Homo sapiens: one gene and its partners. The protein of the gene in region 1 purifies or fractionates together with the protein of each later gene. This does not show direct contact. Each region holds a gene or a part of one and is shown in the gene's direction. Other genes may lie near its edges. The genes, in order: MIDEAS, SEC16A, EIF2AK2, EPB41L3, EPB41L5, ZMYM3 and CLTA.

Evidence for each region.
Region 2: the proteins of MIDEAS (region 1) and SEC16A purify together in Homo sapiens (affinity purification with mass spectrometry; one large-scale study listed by BioGRID and IntAct). This does not show direct contact.
Region 3: the proteins of MIDEAS (region 1) and EIF2AK2 purify together in Homo sapiens (affinity purification with mass spectrometry; one large-scale study listed by BioGRID and IntAct). This does not show direct contact.
Region 4: the proteins of MIDEAS (region 1) and EPB41L3 purify together in Homo sapiens (affinity purification with mass spectrometry; one large-scale study listed by BioGRID and IntAct). This does not show direct contact.
Region 5: the proteins of MIDEAS (region 1) and EPB41L5 purify together in Homo sapiens (affinity purification with mass spectrometry; one large-scale study listed by BioGRID and IntAct). This does not show direct contact.
Region 6: the proteins of MIDEAS (region 1) and ZMYM3 purify together in Homo sapiens (affinity purification with mass spectrometry; one large-scale study listed by BioGRID and IntAct). This does not show direct contact.
Region 7: the proteins of MIDEAS (region 1) and CLTA purify together in Homo sapiens (affinity purification with mass spectrometry; one large-scale study listed by BioGRID and IntAct). This does not show direct contact.

What each region holds. Positions count from the first base shown.
Region 1 is NC_000014.9:73,736,304-73,739,803, reverse strand, and holds part of MIDEAS (mitotic deacetylase-associated SANT domain protein), read left to right. Parts: coding exon 1-1,244; intron 1,245-2,471; exon of another isoform or gene 2,472-2,506; coding exon 2,507-2,806; intron 2,807-3,500.
Region 2 is NC_000009.12:136,459,041-136,462,540, reverse strand, and holds part of SEC16A (protein transport protein Sec16A), read left to right. Parts: intron 1-1,266; coding exon 1,267-1,364; intron 1,365-2,417; coding exon 2,418-2,499; intron 2,500-2,666; coding exon 2,667-2,784; intron 2,785-2,985; coding exon 2,986-3,097; intron 3,098-3,301; coding exon 3,302-3,407; intron 3,408-3,500. UniProt on the Homo sapiens protein: Acts as a molecular scaffold that plays a key role in the organization of the endoplasmic reticulum exit sites (ERES), also known as transitional endoplasmic reticulum (tER).
Region 3 is NC_000002.12:37,132,981-37,136,480, reverse strand, and holds part of EIF2AK2 (interferon-induced, double-stranded RNA-activated protein kinase), read left to right. Parts: intron 1-934; coding exon 935-997; intron 998-3,500.
Region 4 is NC_000018.10:5,414,998-5,418,497, reverse strand, and holds part of EPB41L3 (band 4.1-like protein 3), read left to right. Parts: intron 1-2,119; coding exon 2,120-2,680; intron 2,681-3,500. UniProt on the Homo sapiens protein: Tumor suppressor that inhibits cell proliferation and promotes apoptosis. Modulates the activity of protein arginine N-methyltransferases, including PRMT3 and PRMT5.
Region 5 is NC_000002.12:120,019,577-120,023,076, forward strand, and holds part of EPB41L5 (band 4.1-like protein 5), read left to right. Parts: intron 1-3,500. UniProt on the Homo sapiens protein: Plays a role in the formation and organization of tight junctions during the establishment of polarity in epithelial cells.
Region 6 is NC_000023.11:71,244,141-71,247,640, reverse strand, and holds part of ZMYM3 (zinc finger MYM-type protein 3), read left to right. Parts: intron 1-130; coding exon 131-296; intron 297-948; coding exon 949-1,046; intron 1,047-1,128; coding exon 1,129-1,288; intron 1,289-1,542; coding exon 1,543-1,655; intron 1,656-1,798; coding exon 1,799-1,973; intron 1,974-2,155; coding exon 2,156-2,302; intron 2,303-2,747; coding exon 2,748-2,851; intron 2,852-3,170; coding exon 3,171-3,339; intron 3,340-3,500. UniProt on the Homo sapiens protein: Plays a role in the regulation of cell morphology and cytoskeletal organization.
Region 7 is NC_000009.12:36,197,421-36,200,920, forward strand, and holds part of CLTA (clathrin light chain A), read left to right. Parts: intron 1-130; coding exon 131-168; intron 169-1,558; coding exon 1,559-1,676; intron 1,677-3,500. UniProt on the Homo sapiens protein: Clathrin is the major protein of the polyhedral coat of coated pits and vesicles.

The sequences.
Region 1 (3,500 bases):
GCCTGGCCCTGCTGAACTCTGTGGTATATGGGCCTGAGCGGACCTCAGCAGCCATGCTGTCCCAGCAGGTGGCCTCAGTAAAGTGGCCCAACTCTGTGATGGCTCCAGGGCGGGGCCCGGAGCGTGGAGGAGGTGGGGGTGTCAGTGACAGCAGCTGGCAGCAGCAGCCAGGCCAGCCTCCACCCCATTCAACATGGAACTGCCACAGTCTGTCCCTCTACAGTGCAACCAAGGGGAGCCCGCATCCTGGAGTGGGAGTCCCGACTTACTATAACCACCCTGAGGCACTGAAGCGGGAGAAAGCGGGGGGCCCACAGCTGGACCGCTATGTGCGACCAATGATGCCACAGAAGGTGCAGCTGGAGGTAGGGCGGCCCCAGGCACCCCTGAATTCTTTCCACGCAGCCAAGAAACCCCCAAACCAGTCACTGCCCCTGCAACCCTTCCAGCTGGCATTCGGCCACCAGGTGAACCGGCAGGTCTTCCGGCAGGGCCCACCGCCCCCAAACCCGGTGGCTGCCTTCCCTCCACAGAAGCAGCAGCAGCAGCAGCAACCACAGCAGCAGCAGCAGCAGCAGCAGGCAGCCCTACCCCAGATGCCGCTCTTTGAGAACTTCTATTCCATGCCGCAGCAACCCTCGCAGCAACCCCAGGACTTTGGCCTGCAGCCAGCTGGGCCACTGGGACAGTCCCACCTGGCTCACCACAGCATGGCACCCTACCCCTTCCCCCCCAACCCAGATATGAACCCAGAACTGCGCAAGGCCCTTCTGCAGGACTCAGCCCCGCAGCCAGCGCTACCTCAGGTCCAGATCCCCTTCCCCCGCCGCTCCCGCCGCCTCTCTAAGGAGGGTATCCTGCCTCCCAGCGCCCTGGATGGGGCTGGCACCCAGCCTGGGCAGGAGGCCACTGGCAACCTGTTCCTACATCACTGGCCCCTGCAGCAGCCGCCACCTGGCTCCCTGGGGCAGCCCCATCCTGAAGCTCTGGGATTCCCGCTGGAGCTGAGGGAGTCGCAGCTACTGCCTGATGGGGAGAGACTAGCACCCAATGGCCGGGAGCGAGAGGCTCCTGCCATGGGCAGCGAGGAGGGCATGAGGGCAGTGAGCACAGGGGACTGTGGGCAGGTGCTACGGGGCGGAGTGATCCAGAGCACGCGACGGAGGCGCCGGGCATCCCAGGAGGCCAATTTGCTGACCCTGGCCCAGAAGGCTGTGGAGCTGGCCTCACTGCAGAATGCAAAGGTGAGAGTGGCATGCAGTGGAGCCACACCTGGCAGAGGGCATCAGGCTGATAGGTGGGCGGCTGCAGGATTTGCTTCTTGCCTAGGGAAAGCCAGACTTTGCCCTAGCCAGCTGCCTGTGGGAAAACAGTACAAAGACCACCCTTCACCTTGCCACAGGGTTCTTGCTTACTTTCTTTTGCAGAAATATTTTTTGAATAATTAGATACTATTTCAGATACAGATAGATACAGATCACCGGGTTCAAGTGATTCTCCAGCCTCAGCCTCCCCGAGTAGCTGGGATTACAGGCGCCTGCCACCATGCCTGGCTAATTTTTGTATTTTTAGTAGAGACAGGGTTTTACCATGTTGGTCAGGCTGGTCTCGAACTCCTGACCTCGTGATCTGCCTGCCTCAGCCCCCCAAAGTGCTAGGATTACAGGCGTGAGCCACCGTGTCCAGCCAGAAGCACTTTCTATAGAAGAGAACAGTGTGAGGCTAGGCGCAGTGGCTTATGCCTATAATCCCAGCACTTTGGGAGGCCAAGGTGGGTGGATCACTTGAGGTCAGGAGTTGGGAGACCAGCCTGGCCAACACAGCAAAACCCTATCTCTACCAAAAAACACAAAAATTAGCCAGGTGTGGTACTGCACGCCTGTAATCCCAGCTACTGGGGAGGCTGAGGTGGGAGAATCATTAGAACCTGGGAGGCAGAGGTTGCAGTGAACCAAGATTGTGCCACTGCACTACAACCTGGGTGACAGAGTGAGACCCCCTGTCTCCAAAAAAAAAAAAAAAAAAAAAAAGTGGTCGGAGAAAAGGTAGTCAGGGAAAAAGGTCAAGTTGTGAGACCACTGGGAGCCACTGTGGGTGTTTGAGTCCCGTGACTAAATGGGAATGAGGGTCCTAGATCAAATCAGAATTTATCTTTTATTTGTTTATTTATTTATTATTGAGACAGGGTCTCACTCTGTCACCCAGGCTGGAGTGCAGTGGTTCGATCTCGGCTCACCGCAGCCTTAACTTCCTGGGCTCAGGCAATCCTCCCACCTCTGCCTCCCAAGTAGCTGGGACCACAGGAGTTTGCCACCATGCCCAGCTAATTTTGTTTTATTTTCTGTAGAGACGAGGTGTCACTATGTTGCCCAGGCTGGTCTTGAACTTGTGGCGTCAAGTGATCCTTTAATCTTGTCCTCCCAAAGTGCAGGAATTATAGGCGTGAGCCACTGCGCCTGGCTATGACTTACCTTTTAAATTGCACTTCTGTTCCCATCTTGTCCAGGATGGCAGTGGTTCTGAAGAGAAGCGGAAAAGTGTATTGGCCTCAACTACCAAGTGTGGGGTGGAGTTTTCTGAGCCTTCCTTAGCCACCAAGCGAGCACGAGAAGACAGTGGGATGGTACCCCTCATCATCCCAGTGTCTGTGCCTGTGCGAACTGTGGACCCAACTGAGGCAGCCCAGGCTGGAGGTCTTGATGAGGACGGGAAGGGTCCTGAACAGAACCCTGCTGAGCACAAGCCATCAGTCATCGTCACCCGCAGGCGGTCCACCCGAATCCCCGGGACAGATGCTCAAGCTCAGGTATGAGAGGCGCCCCTTCTAAACACCTCCAGCGCGTGAGTGCTCAGGGGGCCCAGGACCCTATGGGGAAAGGAGAACATGGCAATGTAGGAAGGTATCAGGGAACCTGTGGAGATACTATTTTTATTTTCCAAACCAAACTTCTGGACAGACGTCCAGAAGGGGCATTTGGAGATGTCCCCCTCCTAATGGGGGATGAGACAGTTTTATACTTGAAATTGAAACTGCCTAGAATTGAATTCTAGGTTGTGTACATCTCTTTTTCCAGATCAGCAAATTCTGATTTGGCCCGTGCTGGGTGCTGGGAATGAGAGGTGTTTGCTTGTACTGTCACTACTGAGATCTTGACATCTTTTTTTTTTTTTCTGAGGCAGAGTCTTGCTCTGTCACCCAGGCTGGAGTGTAGTGGCGCAATCTCGGCTCACTGCAACCTCCGCCTCCTGGGTTCACACCATTCTCCTGCCTCAGCCTCCCGAGTAGCTGGGACTATAGGCGCCCACCACCGCGCCCAGCTAATTTTTTGTATTTTTAGTAGAGATGGGGTTTCACCATGTTAGCCAGGATGGTCTCGATCTCCTGACCTCGTGATCCGCCCACCTCAGCCTCCTAGAGTTTTGGGATTACAGGTGTGAGCCACCGCGCCTGGCCGACATCTCCTTCTAAGATTGAGGTTTTGCCTACTTTTTCTTTAGGT
Region 2 (3,500 bases), on another chromosome or scaffold:
GTCAGACTCGAGTCCACAGCCCAGAAGTCATTGGGAGTTGGGAGGGCACACTGAACCTGTCAGAGGCGCAGTGCATGGAAAGGCCATGGGCAAGAGAGCAGCCAGTGCGTGTAGCGTCCAGTGACTGGGGTCACAGCAGCGTGGGGACTGGGGCAGGTGGGGGGCCTGAGACAGGAGCCTGCTCTGGGACAGTGGGGTTGGGGGGTCCATAGTGACTGCAGCAGTGACACTATGTGCACAGGAGGGGCTGTCTAGGGTGCATGATGTTTGCTTTGGATGTGCTAAGCAGGAGAGAGGCCAGTCTCAGAAGCATGTGTGGCCCTGAACAGCAGAGACATGGGATAGGCTGAGAGTTTTCTGTCCTTTTATATCATGATAAACTCAGAAAGGGCATATTTGACCAGTATTTTTATTTTTTTATTTTTAATTTTTTTTGAGACAGGGTCTCACTCTTGCCCAGGCTGGAGTGCAGTGGCGTGATCACAGCTTAATGTGGCCTCGACCTCCTGGGTTCAAGTGATCCTCCCATCTCAGCCTCCTGAGTAGCTGGGACTACAGCTGCATGCCACCACGCCTGGCTAACTTTTTTTTTTTTTTTGTAGAGACGGGGTTTCACCATGTTGCCAGGCTGGTCTCGAATTCCTGGGCTCAAGCAATCCGCCCACCTTGGCCTCCCAAAGTGCTGGGATTATAGGCATGAGCCACCGCGCCCGGCCTGATCAGTATGAGTCTATTATGGATGTTTTATAACTGATTGAAGTCATGTAACCTGTTAGCTTTTATTAACATCTTTCTCTACTGTAACGTTTTTGCCTCCCAGCCAGAAGTTCTAAATTATGCCCTGGATGATTTTGGTGAAAGGGGAGGCTGCCTTACTGGAGTCACTCTCCGTGTTGACAGGATATTCGCGGAGGCCTCCTGTTAGAACTGGGGAGTTGACTCGAGCGTGTTTCCCAGTGGATGGGGCGGCGTGGTGGGCAGCGCTGCGTGATTAGCCCTGTTTGTGATTAGCGTGCTTGTGTTTTATGCTGAAAATGGATAAAAGCAGCAAATATCTACAAATACCCACTACCACAGGGACTTTGAAACTCAGGAAAATAATGAATCGCTACGTGTCTTTAGTCTCCAAATGGTGAATAAGTGTGTTTTTGAGGCCTTTGGGTTGTTTGTGTATCTGCTGCTGCGTGAGGACACATGGCCTGTCTTGACTCATGTCACGTGAGCGCCGCCGATAACCCACCAAGGTCCCTGAAATGCCTTTTGCAGGATGCTTTGGAGTCTGCAATGAAGAATGGCCTGTGGGGTCACGCTCTGCTACTTGCAAGTAAGATGGACAGCCGGACACACGCCCGAGTCATGACCAGGTACAGTCCCACAGTGGCCTGGTCCAGTGGCGAGCCCTGCTGGCTCCCTGTAGCACGCGGCGTCCGCACCCTGGGGGCAGGCGGCAGGCGGATCTCACTTGACTGTGCTGTGCTCCCACACGAACTCGGGCTTCCTTGGCCTCGAGGCTTCCTTGGGTCGTGTTGTGGAGAGCTTAAAAAGTTTTTAATTAACTGCATGGTTTTTAGTACTTCATGTAAAATCTCAGTGAATTCCTCAGTCTTCATCTTTTATAGCTTTTTTTAAATTTTGAGTTTTGCTCTGTTGCCCAGGCTGAAGTGCAGGGGCGCGATCTCAGCTCACCGCAACCCCTGCCTCCCAGGTTCAAGTGATCCTCACGCCTTGGCCTCCCAAGTAGTTGAGACCACAGGCACCCACCACCACACCCAGCTAATTTTTTGTATTTTTAGTAGAGGTGGGTTTTGCCATGTTGGCCAGGCCGGTCTCAAAACTCCTAGCCTCAAGGGATCTGCCCGCCTTGGCCTTCTGAAAGTGCTGGGATTACAGGCGTGAGCCACCATACCTGGCCTTATCTTTTACAGCTTTTTTTTTTTTTTTAATATTGAGATAAGAAAGAAAAATAAAATATTGAGATGTGTGTACTTTGCCTAAGTGAAATATAAGTCTAATCATTACATCAGAGGGCTTAGGGCTGATTTTTTAAAAAATTTATTTTATTACTATTTTATTTATTTATTTTTTTGAGACAGAGTCTTGCTCTGTCACCCAGGCTAGAGTGCAGTGGCACGATCCCAGCTCACTGCAACCTCTGCCTCCTGGGTTCAAGCGATTCTCCTGCCTCAGTCTCCTGAGTAGCTGGGATTATAGGTGTGCACCACCACACCCGGCTAATTTTTGTATTTTTAGTAGAGATGGGGTTTCTCCATGTTAGTCTCTTAACTTCTGACCTCAGGTGATCCGCCCACTTTGGCCTCCCAAAGTGCTGGGATTACAGGCGTGAGCCATCATGTCCGGCCGGCTTTTTTCTTTTAGCTGAGCCAGCATGGGGTCTTTCTGTGTTTATGTCTGCCTAGGTTTGCTAACAGCCTCCCAATCAACGACCCTCTGCAGACAGTCTACCAGCTCATGTCCGGACGGATGCCTGCCGCGTCCACGGTGAGTGGCACTGCCTGGTGGCTTGCACAGGCTCCACTGCCTGTGTGGAGTTTGCTCGTGGGTGACGCTGTCACAGGCCGTGAGGTGCCTGGTGAGCCCAGCTGTGTGGAATTGAAATGGCGCTGGCTTCCGGGGATGAGGCTTCGTTTTGTTTTTCCTCATGTTAGTGCTGTGGAGACGAGAAATGGGGAGATTGGAGGCCGCACCTCGCCATGGTCTTGTCCAACTTGAACAACAACATGGACGTCGAGTCCAGGACGATGGCTACCATGGGCGACACTCTGGGTAGGTCAGGGGTGGAGATGGGCATTGGGTGTCGCGGATGGAGCGCCGAAGGCCCGGTTGTCTGTGGCGTTGGCAGAAATCACCAGAACCCGGCCTTCTCGGTCCGGCTGGCGTCTCTGGTGCCTTCTGTGCGCGTCCTTGACTTCTGCAAGCGCTCCCGGTCGCTGAGCCCCCGCCGTGTGTCGTGTCGTCTCTCCGCAGCTTCAAGGGGCCTCTTGGATGCGGCCCACTTCTGCTACCTCATGGCCCAGGCGGGATTTGGTGTTTACACGAAGAAAACTACAAAGCTTGTCTTAATCGGATCCAATCACAGGTAAAGAACCAAGTCAGTGTAGTCCTGTAAGTTTTCCTTTCAAAGTAAAACAAAATCCTTCTCCTTTAGTGAATTCAGAAATGGCCAGAATCATGTCTTTATTTGTCACGTGGTGGGACACACTTCTGGATGATTTGCTCCAAGGTTGACTATGCCAATAATTGGCCATTTTTTCCAAATCAAAATAATTCACTTCCTCTACAGTTTGCCATTCTTAAAGTTCGCAACCAACGAAGCAATCCAGAGGACGGAAGCCTATGAGTACGCCCAGTCCCTGGGTGCCGAGACCTGCCCCCTGCCTAGTTTCCAGGTAAGCAGGTGCTGCCAGCCTGCAGCTGTCATGGCTGGGCAGGCACTCAGTGCTAACAAGCTTTTGGCTACTTAGATTGTTTGAATTGGTATC
Region 3 (3,500 bases), on another chromosome or scaffold:
TCTTGATGTGGATGCTTGGATGGAGAGAAGAGAGTTCTGCACATGAGGTGCCCTCAGCCACGATTACTGTGGCAGTCAGGAGGGATGAGGAGAATGTGTGAGAAAGACTGTAAAGGAAGAGTGGACATGACTTGAGGGAATAGGTTCCCCGTAGCTGAGTGAAAGCATGAAGGAGAGGTAAAGGAGAAAGGATTTGAAGATTGCTTCACTTTGAACAGGATGCAGTCAAGAACCATGGCACTAATGGTGTTAAGGAAGTTAAGGAGTTAAGGGCTTAGAGAGAAGACAGCAGTTTGGATATGTTTAGTTTTAGGTGGTATTTAAACTTCCATTTGCAGGTGGCTTATCATCAGTAAGGAATAACAGCTAGGATGAGGGTGTAAGGAGATGTACTTCCTGAGGTTTTGAGTCTGGAGGAGGAAAAGGAGAGGTTAGTGACGCATCAACAATGAGCACTCTAAGGTGGAAAAAGGAACCAGAGGAGGGATGAAAAAGTATTAGAGGCCAGAGGAGAACGGTAAGTATATAGTTTTATAAAGAAAAAAGTTGGCTGGGTGCTGTGGCTTGCGCCTGTGATCCCCAGCACTTTGGGAGGCCAAGGTGGGAGGATGGCTTGGGTCCAGGAGTTCGAGACCAGACTGGGTAACATGAAGAGACCCTGTCTCTACTAAAAATAAAAAGAATTAGCCAGGTATGGTGGCACATGCCTGTAATCCCAGCTACCTGGGAGGCTGAGGTGGGAGGATCTCCTCTGAGCCCAGAATTTCAAAGTTGTAGTGAGCTATGATCACACCACTGCACTCCAGGCTGGGAGATGGGGTGAGACCTTGCCTCTGAAGAAAAAAAAAGAAAGAAAAAGGTTAACATTAACACTAAATAAGTTATATTTGATTTCAATTTTATTTGAGTTTTACATTCAACTCTTAATTTTTAGATCTTTGGCACCCAGATTTGACCTTCCTGACATGAAAGAAACAAAGTATACTGTGGACAAGAGGTAAGATTTTAAGTGCTGAAGAAAGAAGAAGGGGTAATGCTGTCGGTGGATGTTTTTGGTAGTTGTCTGTGAAATGGCCATGATCCTGTCAGTTAAAAATATTTGAATAAGATTAACTACGCAGGGTAAGAACAATAGTCTTAGGCTTATCATTAAGAGGGGGCCCAGGAATGGGATGACCCATATTATGATTTTGTTCCCAAACCAAGAATCTAGTTGGTTGTTTTGATACTCCCTTAGCTTTTTAGCCCTTTCTTTAAGTTTTTCATCAGCGTTTCTTACTAGGCCCAATTGGTTGAGATAAAAGCAACATTCCTCACCCAATGAGAGGCAGAGGTCCCTTTTTTCAGCCATTATTAGATCTAGTCCCCATCTGTTTTGGAGGACTACTCCAGCCGAGGAGTCTAGTTTGTCTTGGACTCTTATAATGCTTCAGGCTATATCTTCTAAAGAACCCTGTAATTCTGTGGAAAGAGCTTTAAAGTATGTTAAGGGAGTGGCCAATCTGCCTGCTCCCAATCCAAGTCTGGAGGTTATATCCAAGGCAGCCATTAAAGGAATGACGTGGATGGCCCTCCTCTTCCTAACGTATTGGATGGATGGAATGGGCAAAGGTTGGCTAGGAGGAATTAGTCCAATGGAGGGAGAAAGATAAACTAGGGTACAGGTTCCAGTCCAGTTAGTGGGGAGACAAAGATATGTGTTGGTGCCACTCACACAAAAAATAAGCCTTTGTCATAAATACAGTTGGAGATACAGAAAGAAAACAAGTGAATTAAAGATGGGTGTTTTTTCTTTCCTATGGTTCATTACTCCAGGTGGTCAAGGAGGAGGTCAAGGAGACACCCACTATAGTAGCGATATAGGAAGAGTTATTTTTTACACATTTAATACGATTTGATGTTGCACCATTGCATTGATGTTGAGCCATGGATAAAGGTGGGCGCTAGGGGCAGCACAAATTAGGCCAGAGGCATTGGTTGAGGGAGAGGCTGCAAAACGAACAGGTTGCAGAAATGCTCCATTCGTTTCAGGTGATACTTGGTAGTCAACTCGGTTAGTTTGATGGTCAGCAGGGTGTTTAACAATGATAATGCGGTTGCATTGGTTAGGTTTAAGGATCTTACACGGAAATTTCCCTCAGAGGCTGAAAAGCAAAGTGAGGCTTGTTGTAAAAGTGGGGTGTGTTTAATTATGGGCCCTTCAATGGGAGGGCCTTGTGGCTTAAGGCGTTGTAGGGAGTTGTAATAGGTTTGAAATAATGTGTTGGCCTGATTGACCTTGGAAGTGGGATAATCGCCAACCAGACTGTCAGCTCTTTCAAAAAAGGAAGCTCCTTTTTGGAGTTTATAGATTAGGGTTACGTTTTCTGTTAAAAGGTCATGAAGGGGTGTAGGAAGGGATGTATAAGCTGAAGAAGACAGCGATAAACACATCCAGCATTCTGGAGCAAAGGAAGAGTTAGCTTGCAGCAAGAGGGGTTGTGTAAGGTTTATAGAACGTTCTAGTTTGATAGCAGTGAGGAGTGGTTGTATCGGTGAGGTTGATGTGATTAGGGAATTTAGATAGAAAGAAACAACAAAAGGAGGAAAAAGTTTGGGTAGGAATAAAGTCCTGGAAGGTTCCTTGAAGCCATAAATCCCGTGGAATAGTAAGGAGCTGATCAGGATGTATAATGAGAGTTTCATAAGGATACCACTGAAGGTCTGTAACAAGGCTAGTTAGGAAGCAATGAAAGTTTGGGAGAGAAAGAGACATAGCTGCTTAGGTGAATTTCTCTTCCTTTTCCTCCGGCATTCATGTGAGATGAAGGGAAGTGGATCCTGTGGAGACACAAGAGAGGCTGAAGGTGGTTTAGATTTGATTGTTTGGATGTGTAGTGAAGGGAAGTCTGTGTTCTTGAGAGAAGTATAATGAAACCAGCTGGGGAGTCCCTGGAGCTTTGCTGCTGTGGGTGTAGTGAGGAAGATCTGGTAAGGCCCCTTCCATTTTGGTGTGAGGGGGGAATTGGGGGTAGGGCTGGGACCTTTTACCAGAACCCAGTTTCCTGACTGTAGGAAGGGATTAAAGGAGTTGTATTTTGTCAGCATATTCCCAAATGAAATGGCAGATGATATGCAGAAGAGGAGAAATGAGAGGGGTTGTTAGAGGTGGGGCTTGACCCTGAGGTGGAACAAAAGGAGCATGAGTTCAAATACTTATGCTCAAAACTCCCATACATGAGTTCAAAGGGGATGAGCATTAAAGGTTTACGTGAGAGTGCCCGAATTTTTAGGAGGGCCAAAGCTAGAAGTGTAACCCAGTCTTTATGTGTTTGGAGTGAGTACCTGGTGCGGGTGATTTTTAGAATGCCATTCATTTTTTCAACCTTTCCTGAAGACTGGGGTTGATAGGGGATGTGTAGCTTCCAGGTGATTCGTAGGGCTTGTGCAAGTGTTTGAGTAATTTGAGAAATGAATTCAGGACCATTATCAGATTGAAAAGAAGGAGGCACCCTGAACCT
Region 4 (3,500 bases), on another chromosome or scaffold:
AACAAATATGTGGTTCTTCTTCTTAGTTATTCTAACATTTTATAAACTCGCCATGCCAACATAAGATTCCCATGGATGTATAAGTATTGAAGAAGTGACACATCAATGTAAGTGATTTTTAGTTTTGCTCCCAAGATAAGGCCGGACATTTTCACTTTATTTGCTTTTAAAAGACCACCAGTTTGTTTATATAAAACGTAGCACTAAGCTGTCCTCACTTGGTGCCATTTGTGATGTGGGAAAAGACAAAGGACACTACCAGCCTCATAGCCTGAGTCTCTGAGAAGCCAGCACTCTGGGCAGAATGTCTTCAGGAAGTCTGTAGCTGAAATCTGGTGCTCATATAGGTGTGGGCTGGCTTGGTTTCCCCAGTGCAAAGCTGTCTTCTAGAAATGACTTTAATAATCAGCATGGAAGGTTAAACCTTAATTTTATCCTTCTCCTTCTTCAAAAAGTAACGCAGAGGGTACTTACTTTTCAACCAAAATGAAAGTGTATTACTGAAAATAGTTCTTGAAAGGCTGGTCCCCTAGGTTGCCTGGGAAGGAGGCACGTTTCCCAGGCTGGGATCCCCTGGGTCATGGGGCTGCCTCACCTCCATGCTGGAGGACAGTTGTCTTCATGCAGAAGTTAATGTGTAGCAGCTACATTATTCTTAGTTGAATGAGATTTGTGCAGGTTCCTGTTTAAAGTGCCGTCTTTAATGTCAAATGCAAATGTGTGGGAAAAGACATACTTCTCTCATCGTAAAAAGAGACCCTTCAAAGGCCGAAGAGCTACGATTTTATTTGTGCATTTTCTTTCCCTCATGCCTCAGATGTAACTTTATTTGTGCATTTTCTTTCTGTCGCTATATTTACCACTTCTCCCCAAGTCAGGATTGCATAACCACACAAGGCAGGCTGGGTAATTTCCATGCTGTCAGGCCACTGGGCAAAACACACACATACACACACGCAGTGACACAGACATCAGCAGAAGTCTAATTACTTTCAGGCTTGGATTTCCCGGCCTGCAGCAGCTGCTGTACCTGCCCAGGTCCTGCTTGGGGCTTGCGTGCTTTCCTTCCTCCCCTTCTTGTCCAGCAACCCCTCCGCCACCTGCAGAGGAAACTGGCCCTGGTCGTGGAGACTTCCAGGACCCAGAGAGGAGGAGAAGCAGATTCACTTGCCCCATAAAAGCTTGAGCTCACCAGGGGAGCACCTGTGGAAAACCCTGCTTTTATCATTATATTAAGGACTCAAACCAAAGATCTAAATATGCCCTTTATCTGCTAAGAAAAATCAGAAGGCTGGGAAATTATATCTTTCTGTTATTATGCATCATAAATAATAGAAAGTAAATACTGGCAAAGCATGTTACAAGAAAACACATTGTTTTTGCTAGTTAGCTTGTTGAAATCACTTCAGTTGAAGTTCCACTAATATCCTAAATAAAGGAGCCAAAATAGAGCTTTCAAGGGAACTTCAGTTCTTTTCTGAGGAGTGAGATATTCAGAAATGCTAACTGTCGAATCCCTGATTGTAACTACTTATCAGATAGGAGTGGGGCCAGAAACTTCTTGATTTGGAATGTAAACTCCTTGTTTTGGATGTAATTGAATAACCAGGGAAAGGACTAATGCTAGAGATTGGTTTTTTTTTTTTAATCAAAATCTGGATTGGATTTCATCTTCATTTTTAATCTAGCTGAACTATAGTAACAGCTCTGCTACCTGGAAATCAGGAGAAGGCTATTGAAAGTCTTCATGTTAAGTTATCAGATTTACTTATGTTTGCTCCCCAAAACCTGAAACTTTCTAGAGTTGTTAGTCTAAAGGGAAATTTTTTGACCATGTGAAATGTGTAGACTTTGGGATTGCCCACAAATACCTTCTGTTCTGAGTTTTTAAAGAATTCCACCTGTATGTGATAGTCTCATGGGAGAAATGTAGCCGTTCGTGGCAACAGTGGCATGCAGCTTGAATACTTTAACATTCATGAGCAACCCTAGTGCTAAAATTTTTGTTTTACAATTTTATATTGATACCCATAAGAAAATTAACTAATTGCAGTTTTCTTTTTGTCCTTTTGCACCTCTGTTTGCTGCTTTCTGTCTCTTTCTGTCTCTTTCACATCAGTCACCTGGGCTTGGCACTGACTCATGTCCCTTGTCACCCCCATCCACCCATTGTGCCCCCACATCTCCCACAGAGCTCCGTAGGAGGTGTAAGGAGAATGACTGCAAACTGCCAGGTTATGAGCCGTCCAGAGCTGAGCACCTGCCTGGAGAGCCCGCCTTGGACTCTGATGGCCCAGGGAGGCCTTACCTAGGGGATCAAGATGTGGCTTTTAGCTACAGACAGCAAACTGGCAAGGGGACCACCCTGTTCTCCTTCTCCTTGCAGCTCCCTGAGTCATTCCCCTCCCTCCTAGATGATGATGGATACCTCTCTTTCCCCAACCTTTCTGAAACCAACCTCCTGCCCCAGAGCTTGCAGCATTACCTCCCGATCCGCTCACCGTCCCTTGTGCCCTGTTTCCTCTTCATCTTTTTCTTTCTGCTGTCTGCCTCCTTCTCAGTGCCATACGCTCTCACTCTCTCCTTCCCTCTGGCTCTGTGCCTCTGCTACCTGGAGCCCAAGGCGGCCTCCTTGAGCGCCTCCCTAGACAATGACCCGAGTGACAGTTCAGAGGAAGAGGTGTGTACCTCGGCATAGAACACGCTTCCCCTTCGTGTTCCGTGCTTGAGTCCGAAACAGTGTTAGCTGGCTGCTGCCATAGTGGTCCTACTTTCAGAGCCTCATTTATTGTCTGTGCCAATATGTTGAGGTTTCTGTGTGTTGGGGAGTCCAACCTGGGCCCCAGGGTTAGGCACAACACCATGTGGATGTAGCAGTCTGAGCCCAACCCGGAATCGTTCTGCTACCCACTGAGTTCTACGTGGGATGAAAGACTCAGCCAGAAGTCAATTTTATATAACCCGTCAGCTGTGTAAAAGATCAGGGCTAAGCTAAAGGTTCTGATCAGTTATGGTTTAATAAGGTAAATCACATATAAGACAGATGATGAGTAGTTTTCAACTTAAATGACAGTCAAGGAGAGGTGGAAGAGTGCATCCCCGGAGGGGATGTATCATCATCACCTGGGTAGCTTTCTAAAGTTGCAAAGGTATCTCCTCCCTGGAGATCCTGAAATGTCCCCACCACCCTCTGCTCATCATTGCCAGACAGTCATTGTTACTCACAGAGAGGTCAGTCAATCAGATCCCGCATTGTATTGTGTCAGAGCAGTTTAAAGCACCCACATGACATCAGCCATTGGTAAGGGCAGAAACAAGCCCAGAAGCAACGGCATGCAGTGCAGCAGTGTTCAGACACAATCAGAAAAGGACTAAATTGAAGTTTTCAAACAATGTAAAGGCAGGCTGAAATTTCACCATGCTAGCAATGCCAATGCAGATAATATGACAGCGATTCTTTCAACTGCAGTATGAGTCTCAAAATCCCCCCATTTTCACAG
Region 5 (3,500 bases), on another chromosome or scaffold:
AGTGGATTTCTGACAATCCTTGTTGAACCATTATTAAAACGTTGTGAATCTTTGAGAATAACAACACTTAAATGTGTACTGTAAGACTTTTAGCTTCTATGCACTTCTGTATTTTTTAAAACTCTCCTTACTTTCTTCTAAATAAATATTTCCCCACAATTTGGTTTACTTGCAGACATTAATGAGGTGAAGTGAGAAAAAGGACTTTCTTCATACCCCTCAGCTCTGACTGCCTGTCTCTTTGCTCCTGAAGTATTTTGCATTGTAGGTTTTTCATACACTGTAGTCTTTATCTCAAGACAGGCTGTTGTAATTATATTTGCATTTTGGATAGATTTTTTTTTTTTCAGAAATATATAATCATAACTCAGTGTGAAACAATCTGACATGTTTGAAAGGGGTTAGCTTATTTTTTTACAGGACTTTTTGGGTGGAGGAGGGGAAGAAAAGGTTGGCTTTTTGGTTTTGGGCAGTTGAATATTTTTCTGAGTTGCTTGCTAATACCAAATCTCTTTCTCATGTCTTTGTTCTGCATTCAAAGACTTAACGGTAAATTACATCATTTGATGTGAGCTTCATAGGATATTCCTTAATGTCTTTTCTCCCCACAGACTTTTTAGTACACACTCATCTACCCAAAATTCAATTTAAAAAGTCTCTTTGGGCAAAGTGATAGCCTACGTGCTGCTGTAATACATAATTGAATAAGCTCGGGAAGACCTTAAACTCACCAAGTGAGAGTATAAGGAATTGGAGAGTTTGTTTAAATGGATGTTCTGATTAACTTAATAATTTGGAATGTATTAGATATGTACATTATACATTTTAAAATATTAGAATATGATAAAATTAATCAAAGACTCAGGATTTCTTGAAGTGTTTTGAAGTCATCATTACGTGTATTTGTTATCTTTGTCTATAAGAATGTATATTTTTAGGGTTTTTGATTCTGGACAACTTGAAAGCATCTAAATTTTCTTCCTGTAAGTGCTTCTTGAGGGTTTATCAGACATTCCAACATGAGATATTTTGTGAGGATAGTTTTCATACTCATTTCTTATTTGATAGGAATCTTAAGAGTTTTGTTTACTATTTCATTAAAATATCATTGGATATGTGGTGAAAAGCCTGAGATTGCTGTGTAAGAGACTGGAAAGAAATTTCTTATTACCTAATGTTTGAAGTATGAAGTTTCAGGGTTGTTGATGGACAAGCTGATAGTAGGAGAGTAGAATTTGTAAAAAAAAAAAAAAGAGGTTTTTAAAAACGCAGTGCAGTATGGAGGAGAAACAACACTAGCTTTTAAAGTGGTGGAACAAATGGCTAGTTACTGATCTGGAATGGTTTCCTAAACTTTGTATGCTTAGCTGGGTGTATGTGATGCTTGATCAAATTTATAAACTAGCTGGTCTCTCATGGGGACAATTGTAGTGAAACAGCTGGAGATATAGATTGGACTTTTTGTGAAACAAGAACAGTTGTCAGCCAGGTGCAGTGGCTTATGCCTGTAATCCCAGCACTTTGGGAGGCTGAGGCAGACAGAACCCTTAGGCCAGGAGTTCGAGACCAGCCTGGCCAACATGGTGAAACCCATCTGTACTAAAAATACAAAAATTAACCGGGCGTGGTGGCATGCGCCTGTAGTCCCAGCTACTCAGGAGGCTGAGGCAGGAGAATCACTTGAACCTGGGAGGTGGAGATTGCAGTGAGCTGAGATCGCGCCACTGCACTCCAGTCTGGGTGACAGCAAGACTCCGTCTCAAAAAAAAAGAAAAAGGAACAATTGGGCCAGGTGCAGTGGCTCACGCCGGTAATCGCAGCACTTTGGGAGGCCGAGGTGGGCGGATCACAAGGTCAGGAGTTTGAGACCAGTCTGGCCAACATAGTGAAACCCCGTCTCTACTAAAAATACAAAATAGCTGGGTGTGGTGGCGGACGCCTGTAATCCCAGCTACTTGGGAGGCTGAGGCAGGAGAATCGCTTGAACCCAGGAGGCAGAGGTTGCAGCGAGCTGAATTCGCACCACTGCACTCCAGCCCGGGTGACAGTGCGAGACTCCATCTCAAAAAAAAGGAACAACTGTCTTTCCAATTCTGTAGGTGAAATCGTACTTATTAACCTAACTCTAGGTACGTGCATGGATATAAAGTGGTCATTGGCCTGTTTTACTAAATTGTCACTAAAGGAAAAAATAGTCCAGAAGAATAATAATTTCTAAAAAAGAAGAAATGATTTCCCCTTTTCAGATTTATTTTCTCAACCAGTCTACTGTGATTCTGGGAGAAGATTTAGAATTGATTTTAGAAATTGAATGAAGCACATACTCATTTCCCATTACGATAAGGGTCTAGGATAAGGGTCACTAGTGATTATAGTTAGCCGTCTTCTTCCTTTAAAGAAAAAAAATTAAATAGGGTGAGAAGGCCTTTCAGTGAATGACAAAGGTATCAGGTAGAAATTTCTATCTAATTTTTAAGTTTTTTCTTTGAAAATACGACAGTAAACTTGTTTAAGAGCTTAGTATTGGTAAATAGCTTTAATGTAAAACCCTTATAAGTTTTAAATTGGGAAATGTTTGGTCAATTAACCAATAGATAACAATTTTTTTTCCTTTTTTTAAATTGTACTTTAAGTTCTGGGATACATGTGCAGAACGTGCAGGTTTATTACATAGGTATACACGTGCCATCGTGGTTTGCTGTACACATCAACCCGTCATCTACATTAGGTATTTCTCCTAATACTATCCCTCCCCTAACCCCCCACCCCCCGACAGGCCCTGGTGTGTGATGTTCTCCTCCCTGTGTCTGTGTGTTCTCATTGTTCAGCTCCCACTTATGAGTGAGAACATGTGGTGTTTGGTTTTCTGTTCCTGTGTTAGTTTGCTGAGAATGATGGTTTCCAGCTTCATCTGTGTCCCTGCAAAGGACGTGAACTCATCCTTTTTATGGCTGCATAGTATTCCATGGGGTATATGTGCCACATTTTCTTTATCCAGTCTATCATTGATGGGCATTTGGGTTGGTTCCAAGTCTTTGCTATTGTGAATAGTGCTGCAGTAATCATACATGTGCATGTGTCTTTACAGTAAGATGATTTATAATTCTTTGGGTATATACCCAGTAATGGAATTGCTGAGTCAGGTGATATTTCTGGTTCTAGATCCTTGAGGAATTGCCACACTGTCTTCCACAATGGTTGAACTAATTTACACTCCCACTAACAGTGTAAAAGCATTCCTATTTCTCCACATCCTCTCCAGCACCTGTTGTTTCCTGACTTTATTGATGGCCATTCTAACTGGCATGAGATGGTATCTCATTGTGATTTTGATTTGCATTTCTCTAATGGCCAGTGATGATGAGCTTTTTTTCATATGTTTGTTGACTGCATAAATGTCTTTTTTTGAGAAGTGTCCATTCATATCCTTCACCCACTTTTTGATGGGGTTGTTTGTTTTTTTCTTGTAAATTTGTTTAAGTTCCTTGTAGATTCTGGAT
Region 6 (3,500 bases), on another chromosome or scaffold:
GAGGGCAGCCAGCCTTCCATCTCTAAGCTGGCCCGATCTCCAAGGGGAGGAGCATGGCTTATCCCGGGGGAAAGAAAGGGCCCAACGCATTTTAGGGAGGCAGGTCTGACCATCCTTTTGACATCCTCAGGCTGCCCGGTGCCATGCGTGTAAGCGCCAGGGGAAGCTGCTGGAGACCATCCACTGGCGTGGGCAGATCCGTCATTTCTGCAACCAGCAGTGTCTTCTGCGTTTCTATAGCCAGCAGAACCAACCCAACCTGGATACCCAGAGTGGGCCCGAGAGCCTCCTGAACAGTGAGTCCCAGGCAGGGGGTACACTCTGTTAGAGGGAGCCTGGACTCTCCTAATCCTAAGCCTAGCCCCTTTCTCCTTCCTCTTGCGTTCAGCTCACCCCTGGCCAGATAGGGTGCTAGTACTGTGAACTGTATTCTCTTTTAGCTTCCGAACCCTGCAGGTACCGGGGGAGTCTTATTTAAAGCTTCTTGGAGTTAGCATCTACTGATTGTCTATGAAATATATATTGTTAGGGAGTGGGTGCCTTTCCTGGTAGGATGGAGCATATAGGGGTTATGGTTACGTTTCTGAGATAAGGAAATCTCAGCATAAACTCTACATTTAGTGAGACTGAAGACTGCTATTTCTAGAATGTTACCCCTGCCCCTCCACAACTCCAGGGATAACAGACTCTTCAGGCTATCTAAGTGGAAGGTCTCAAATGTGGGTTTTGGGGGAAAATGTAATGTTTCATTCTCCAGGAACAAATAATCTTTTAGGCTGCTATTGCTGGGGCATAGAGGAGACTAGATCTGGGATGGCAAGGGGGTCAAATCCTAGAAGTTCCCATCTGTATTTGGTGTACCTGTTAATGAAGCTCTCCTGGAACAGGGGTAAGGAAAATGGAGAGCTAGTCCCTTGGATGAGAGCATTCATTTGTTTTGATCTACAGGTCAGTCTCCTGAGTCAAAACCCCAGACACCCTCTCAAACCAAAGTGGAGAACAGCAACACAGTGAGGACCCCAGAGGAAAATGGGAATTTGGGCAAGGTCGGGGCAAAAGCCAAGGGGGAGGATAATCTCAGAGGAGGGTACGGCGGTTGGTGGCACAAATGTTCCTCTGTCTTTGCAGATCCCTGTGAAGACCCGATCAGCTCCCACTGCTCCCACCCCTCCACCCCCACCACCCCCAGCAACACCCCGCAAAAACAAGGCTGCCATGTGTAAGCCACTGATGCAGAATCGGGGCGTCTCCTGCAAGGTGGAGATGAAGTCCAAAGGAAGTCAAACAGGTGAGCCAGGGTACCTCGATGCCACAGGCTGTATTCCAGAGTCCTAGGCCTGCCAGCCCTATGTCCGTGAGCTGGACAAGGGGATTTCTTAGGTAGCTGAAGCCTCATTCATATGGTTGTCCTAGAATCATAGAGGTGTCTTTCAGCCTTTGATTCAAGGGCAGTTTTGTGACACTGAGCATGTTAGAGCTTTTGGTGGGTCAGATGTGACCAGTCCAGCAGGGTCTCTGAGAAGACCCCTTTCTTATCCACAGAAGAGTGGAAGCCACAGGTGATCGTGCTGCCCATCCCAGTGCCCATCTTCGTGCCAGTGCCTATGCATCTGTACTGCCAGAAAGTCCCGGTGCCTTTCTCGATGCCTATCCCGGTGAGTTTCCCTGCCCTTCCTGGCTGGGTCCTCCTTTCCCCTTACTCTCATCAACTGTCCCCCTTCACTCATCATCTGTCCCCCCAACTTCCCCCCAACTGCTGGTGTGGTTCTTGGCATTTAGTTGGGATTCGTGCCTCCAGGTGCCTGTGCCCATGTTCTTGCCCACTACCTTGGAGAGCACAGACAAGATTGTAGAGACCATTGAGGAGCTGAAGGTGAAGATCCCTTCCAACCCCTTGGAGGCCGACATCCTGGCTATGGCAGAAATGATTGCAGAGGCTGAGGAGTTAGACAAGGCCTCATCTGACCTTTGTGGTATGCCATAGATGGTGGCGACGAGGGAGACAGGGTGCTACCAGCATGTCTCTGCCCGAGGGGGTGGTATTGGTGATCTTGGTGCCTAGTAGAATGGGAGGATAGTTGGGATCAGTCCCTGAAAGCTTGTGAGGGTGCTAGCAGGAGCTTGTAACCACTGAGCCAACTTCTCTGCTTCCCAGATCTTGTGAGCAACCAGAGTGCAGAGGGACTCCTGGAAGACTGTGACCTGTTTGGGCCTGCTCGAGATGATGTCCTGGCCATGGCAGTCAAGATGGCCAATGTCTTGGATGAGCCTGGGCAAGACTTGGAGGCAGACTTCCCTAAGAGTGAGTAAGATTGGAGCCATGCCCACTGAGTATGGTAGCATTTGTGCCATCAGGAAGGGAGTGTCCCTTGTGTCCCTGAGCATGACCCTGAAAAGTGTTCATTGTGATTCTAAGACGGAAGGTTCTCACAGGGAGCAGTGCCAGAGACACCAGGACAGGTGCACTCTTTTAGACTTCTGAGTCATGCTTTTTTTTTTTTTTTTTTTTTTTTAATTTTTAAGCTGAAAAAAAACATAAAATTTTACCATGTTCAACATGTTTACGGTTCAGTAGTTCACATTGCTGTGTTTTGCGTTTCTGTGCCTCTGAGCATGCTTTTTGGTATAGCTTTACTGGTTCCTTTGGCTCATCTAGTGTCAAGTGGGCAAGTAGCAGGGGTGGGGCAGGAGGGCTGCAGGGTTGAGATCTTAAGAAATTGATTTCTTCTTTCTTTCCTTTTCATTAGATCCTCTGGACATTAATCCCAGTGTAGACTTCCTCTTTGATTGTGGCCTGGTAGGGCCTGAGGATGTGTCTACTGAACAAGACCTTCCCCGAACCATGAGGAAGGTAGGGCTGGGGCTACTGTATGTACAAAAGAAGAATGGAGGCCCAAAGGGGAGATGATGCGAGAGCCAAGCCAGCAACCATAGTTTGACCTTCCCTAACCTCCTTTCTCCAACACTAGAAGTACTGAGATAAAGCCAAACTTTGCTCTCCCCCCATCTCACAAGGTCATCAAAGCTGTTCCTGGGGCTCTGTGCTATGGAAGCTTGCTGTGTGCTTACATCAGCCCCTGCCCCGGCCAGCAGTAAATATGGTGCTGACTAGCTTTCACCTTGCCTCTGGCCTTACCTCTGCCATGCCCCTGCTTTCTCTTCCCCTCCAGGGTCAAAAGCGGCTGGTGCTTTCCGAAAGCTGCTCCCGGGACTCCATGAGCAGTCAGCCTAGTTGTACCGGGCTCAACTATTCATATGGTGTCAATGCTTGGAAGTGCTGGGTGCAGTCAAAATATGCCAATGGAGAAACCAGCAAGGGTGATGAGCTGCGCTTTGGCCGTAAGTACTTGGGGATGGGGGGTGTGGGGAGGCAGGGACAGGGAGGAGGAGGGGAAAGGGGAGAAGGGGCTGGGCCTGTGATTCAGCTGAAGATGTCTAGAAGTGATAAGGGTGTGATCCCTTAAGGATGCCCTGTGAAGATGGGGAGGAGTTGTAGATTA
Region 7 (3,500 bases), on another chromosome or scaffold:
CACCTACCACAGGGATAGCATTTAGTAGCTCAAGGTTCATACAGCATATGATGCTGTATTCTACTGTACAACCCTTTGGCCCAGTGTTTGACCAGTCCTTATTGATAGACCAAAATCTTATGTCTTGCAGATGCTGTTGATGGAGTAATGAATGGTGAATACTACCAGGTACAGAGTACTCTGATTCTGTTCATTGATAGTGATTGAGAATCTTCCTTTCCTGTGATTTTAATTGACTGACCTAGAAAGAAACCCCAGTCCTTTGACTTTCCTGAATGTATTACTGGCTGGTGTGTTATCTACCAAAGTGGAAAGATTTAAAGAGAGGTAGCATTGATAAAAAGAGAACTGTTTAAAAATGTTATTTACCTGCCCCTAGTGTTATCACCTTTATTCTAAAGAAATCACCATTCAAATGATACTGTGTTGAGTGCAGTAAGTTAATACTAATACTTTAAATAATTCTCCTTCCATCTTTGTTTATAGTCTGATTAGGTTAACCTGGTAATATTAATATTCCTTAGTTCAGTGAGTGGCATATGGAATAATTTTGTAAAGATTAACATTTATTTGAGTCTTTTTTTTTTTTTTTTTTTTTGAGACAGTCTCACTGTCGCCCAGGCTAGAGTGCAGTGGCACGATCTTGTCTCATTGCAACCTCCACCTTCTGGGTTCAAGCGATTCATCCACTTCAGCCTCCTGAGTAGCTGGAATTACAGGCGCATGCCACCACGCCCGGCTAATTTTTTGTATTTTTAGTAGAGATGGGGTTTCGCCATGTTGGCCAGGCAGGTCTTGAACTCCTGGGCTCAAGTGACCATCCCGCCTTGGCCTCCCAAAGTGCTGGGATTACAGGCGTGAGCCACCGCACCCCGCCAGAGCCACCGCAACCTTGGCTCACTGCAGAACCCGTTTCTAACAACAATGGCGGCTTTTGTAAAATGTTAAAGGATTACCTTAAAAGCAACAACACAGGCCGGGCACGGTGGCTCACGCCTGTAATTCCAGCACTTTGGGAGGCTGGGGTGGGTGGATCATTTGAGGTCAAGAGTTCGAGACCAGCCTGGCCAACACAGTGAAACCCGTCTCTGCTAAAAATACAAAAATTAACCAGGCGGTAGTGGCATGTGCCTGTAATCCCAGCTACTGGGGAGGCTGAGGCAAGAGGAGAATTTGCTTGAACCCGGGGAGTAGAGGTTGCAGTTGGCCAAGATTGCGCCACTGCACTCCAGTCTGGGTGACAGAGTAAGACCCTGTCCCGTCCCCCCTTCCCCCACCCCAGAAAAAAAAAAAAAAAAAAGCAACCACATAGGCCAGGCGCAGGCACCTGTAATCTCAGCTACTCGGGAGGCTGAGGCAGGAGAATTGCTTGAACCCGGGAGGTGGAGGTTGCAGTGAGCCGAGATCGTGCCACTGCACTCCAGCCTTGGCGACAAGAGTGAAAACTCTGTCTCAAAAAAAAAAAAAAAAAACAGAACCAGGGGTTCTAACTCAGGTGAAGTGCATTTTAGGAAGGAATTTTTGGTATTAATATAGCACAATTGTGTTTTGTGTTAAGGAAAGTAATGGTCCAACAGACAGTTATGCAGCTATTTCACAAGTGGATCGATTGCAGTCAGAGCCTGAAAGTATCCGTAAATGGAGAGAAGAACAAATGGAACGCTTGGAAGCCCTTGGTAAGGAATCCCTTCTGTGTTTTGGTGTCTGTTTTCAGTGGAGTAGTTGAGCTGGACTCTACTTTTATTCCTTTTTAGCTCACATTAACCAGTGTCATTGTCTGGTCTTTGGGAAGATATCTTCTCAGCCTGAAGGTTACAAGGCTACCTGCACAGAGATGCCTAATCACAGGCCATTGTGTGAGGAGTAGGGTAGCCGGAGATCCCCAAGATCCTCTCACAGGAAGAGCATAGTGATGCTGCTCCTGACCTCAAGAGTAGCCTCAGGTGGTGTTTATAGAGTGCTTTATAAACTTGAAGGATTCAAGTTTCCTATGTCCGTGGACTTTAACAGTCCATTTTTCTTTTTTCTTTTTTCTTTTTTTTTTTTTGAGATGAAGTCTCACTCTGTTACCCAGGGTGGAGTGCAGTGGTGCGATCTCGGCTCATTGCAAGCTCTGCCTCCCGGGTTCACACCATTCTCCTGCCCTCAGCCTCCTGAGTAGCTGGGTCTACAGGCGCCCGCCACTACGTCCCGCTCATTTTTTTTTTGTATTTTTAGTAGAGACAGGGTTTCACCGTGTTAGCCAGGTTGGTCTCGATCTCCTGACCTTGTGATCCACACACCTTGGCCTCCTAAAATGCTGGGATTACAGGCGTGAGCCACCGCGCCCGGCCTCCATTTTTTATTTGAAGGCTAAATGAATTTAAAGTAACACGAGGAAAATGAGGTATGTTAGGAAAAAATGTACAATTTGTTTTTCCTACCTTAATATCTCTGTAAGGTAAGTTTTACAATTTTACAGGTAAGAAAAGTGGAGGAGAGGTAGAATAAGTATTTGGAATACTCAGCTAAGGAATGGTAAGAGTCACAATTTCAGCTGAAGTCTGCCTTGCTTCAAAGTCACTACCCATCCCCATCAGCCACATTGCTTTCTAAACATTTAATGTGCGTGGCCATCTAGCCACACAGCCTGGCCTTTGATAAAGAGATGTGTACGTGGAGTGTCACCTGTTGGTTCATGATCAGGGGAGACTTGTGTCTGTACATGGTGGATTGGAGAAGTATGCAGAGTGTGAGGATATAATCCACATTGTGGCCTTTTCTTTGTTTTTTCTTTTTCTTTTTTTAATCAGCTGACTTTAAGATTCATCTTTTCTCAACTTTACAGAACAATTGAAAGGAGGAAAATAAACATGTGCACCCCCAGATTCAGTAATTAATGGATTATCTTTATATAAATGATATGTTTTAGACATACACACACACAAATTGTTTTGGCTGACCTACTTTAAGATAAAGACATCATATACTTTGTGTCTAAATATTTCAATGTACACCTCCTAGAAATAATGACATTCTCCTATGTAACCACAACGTCAGCAGTATTATTCCCTCTTGGGAACTGTTGAACTAGTGAAAACATGAGTCCTTATTTTTCAGATGGGATAACTGACACCCAGAAATAGGAAGGGACATGACCCAGATGACACAGCCAATTAGTGCCAAATCATTTATCTCTCTAGTCCAATTTAGGTGGCTTTCAGAACAAAGAATGCACTTAGTATTTGAACCTTTATAGCACCATTCATTAGTGATTTCTTTGGTGGAAATATTCTGTATCTGTGCTGTCTCGTATGGTAGCCACTAACCACATGTAACTGTTAAGTACTTGAAGTGTGGCTTCACAATTCAAGTGTGACTGAGAAACTGAATTTTAAATTTTCTTTAATTTTAATAAATTTACATTGAAGTAGCCACATGTAGCTAGTAGCTACCATATTGGACAGTGGAGCTGTAGGAAGATGAAAATAGGTCCTAACAGCTTTGGTCCTTGCTTGTTC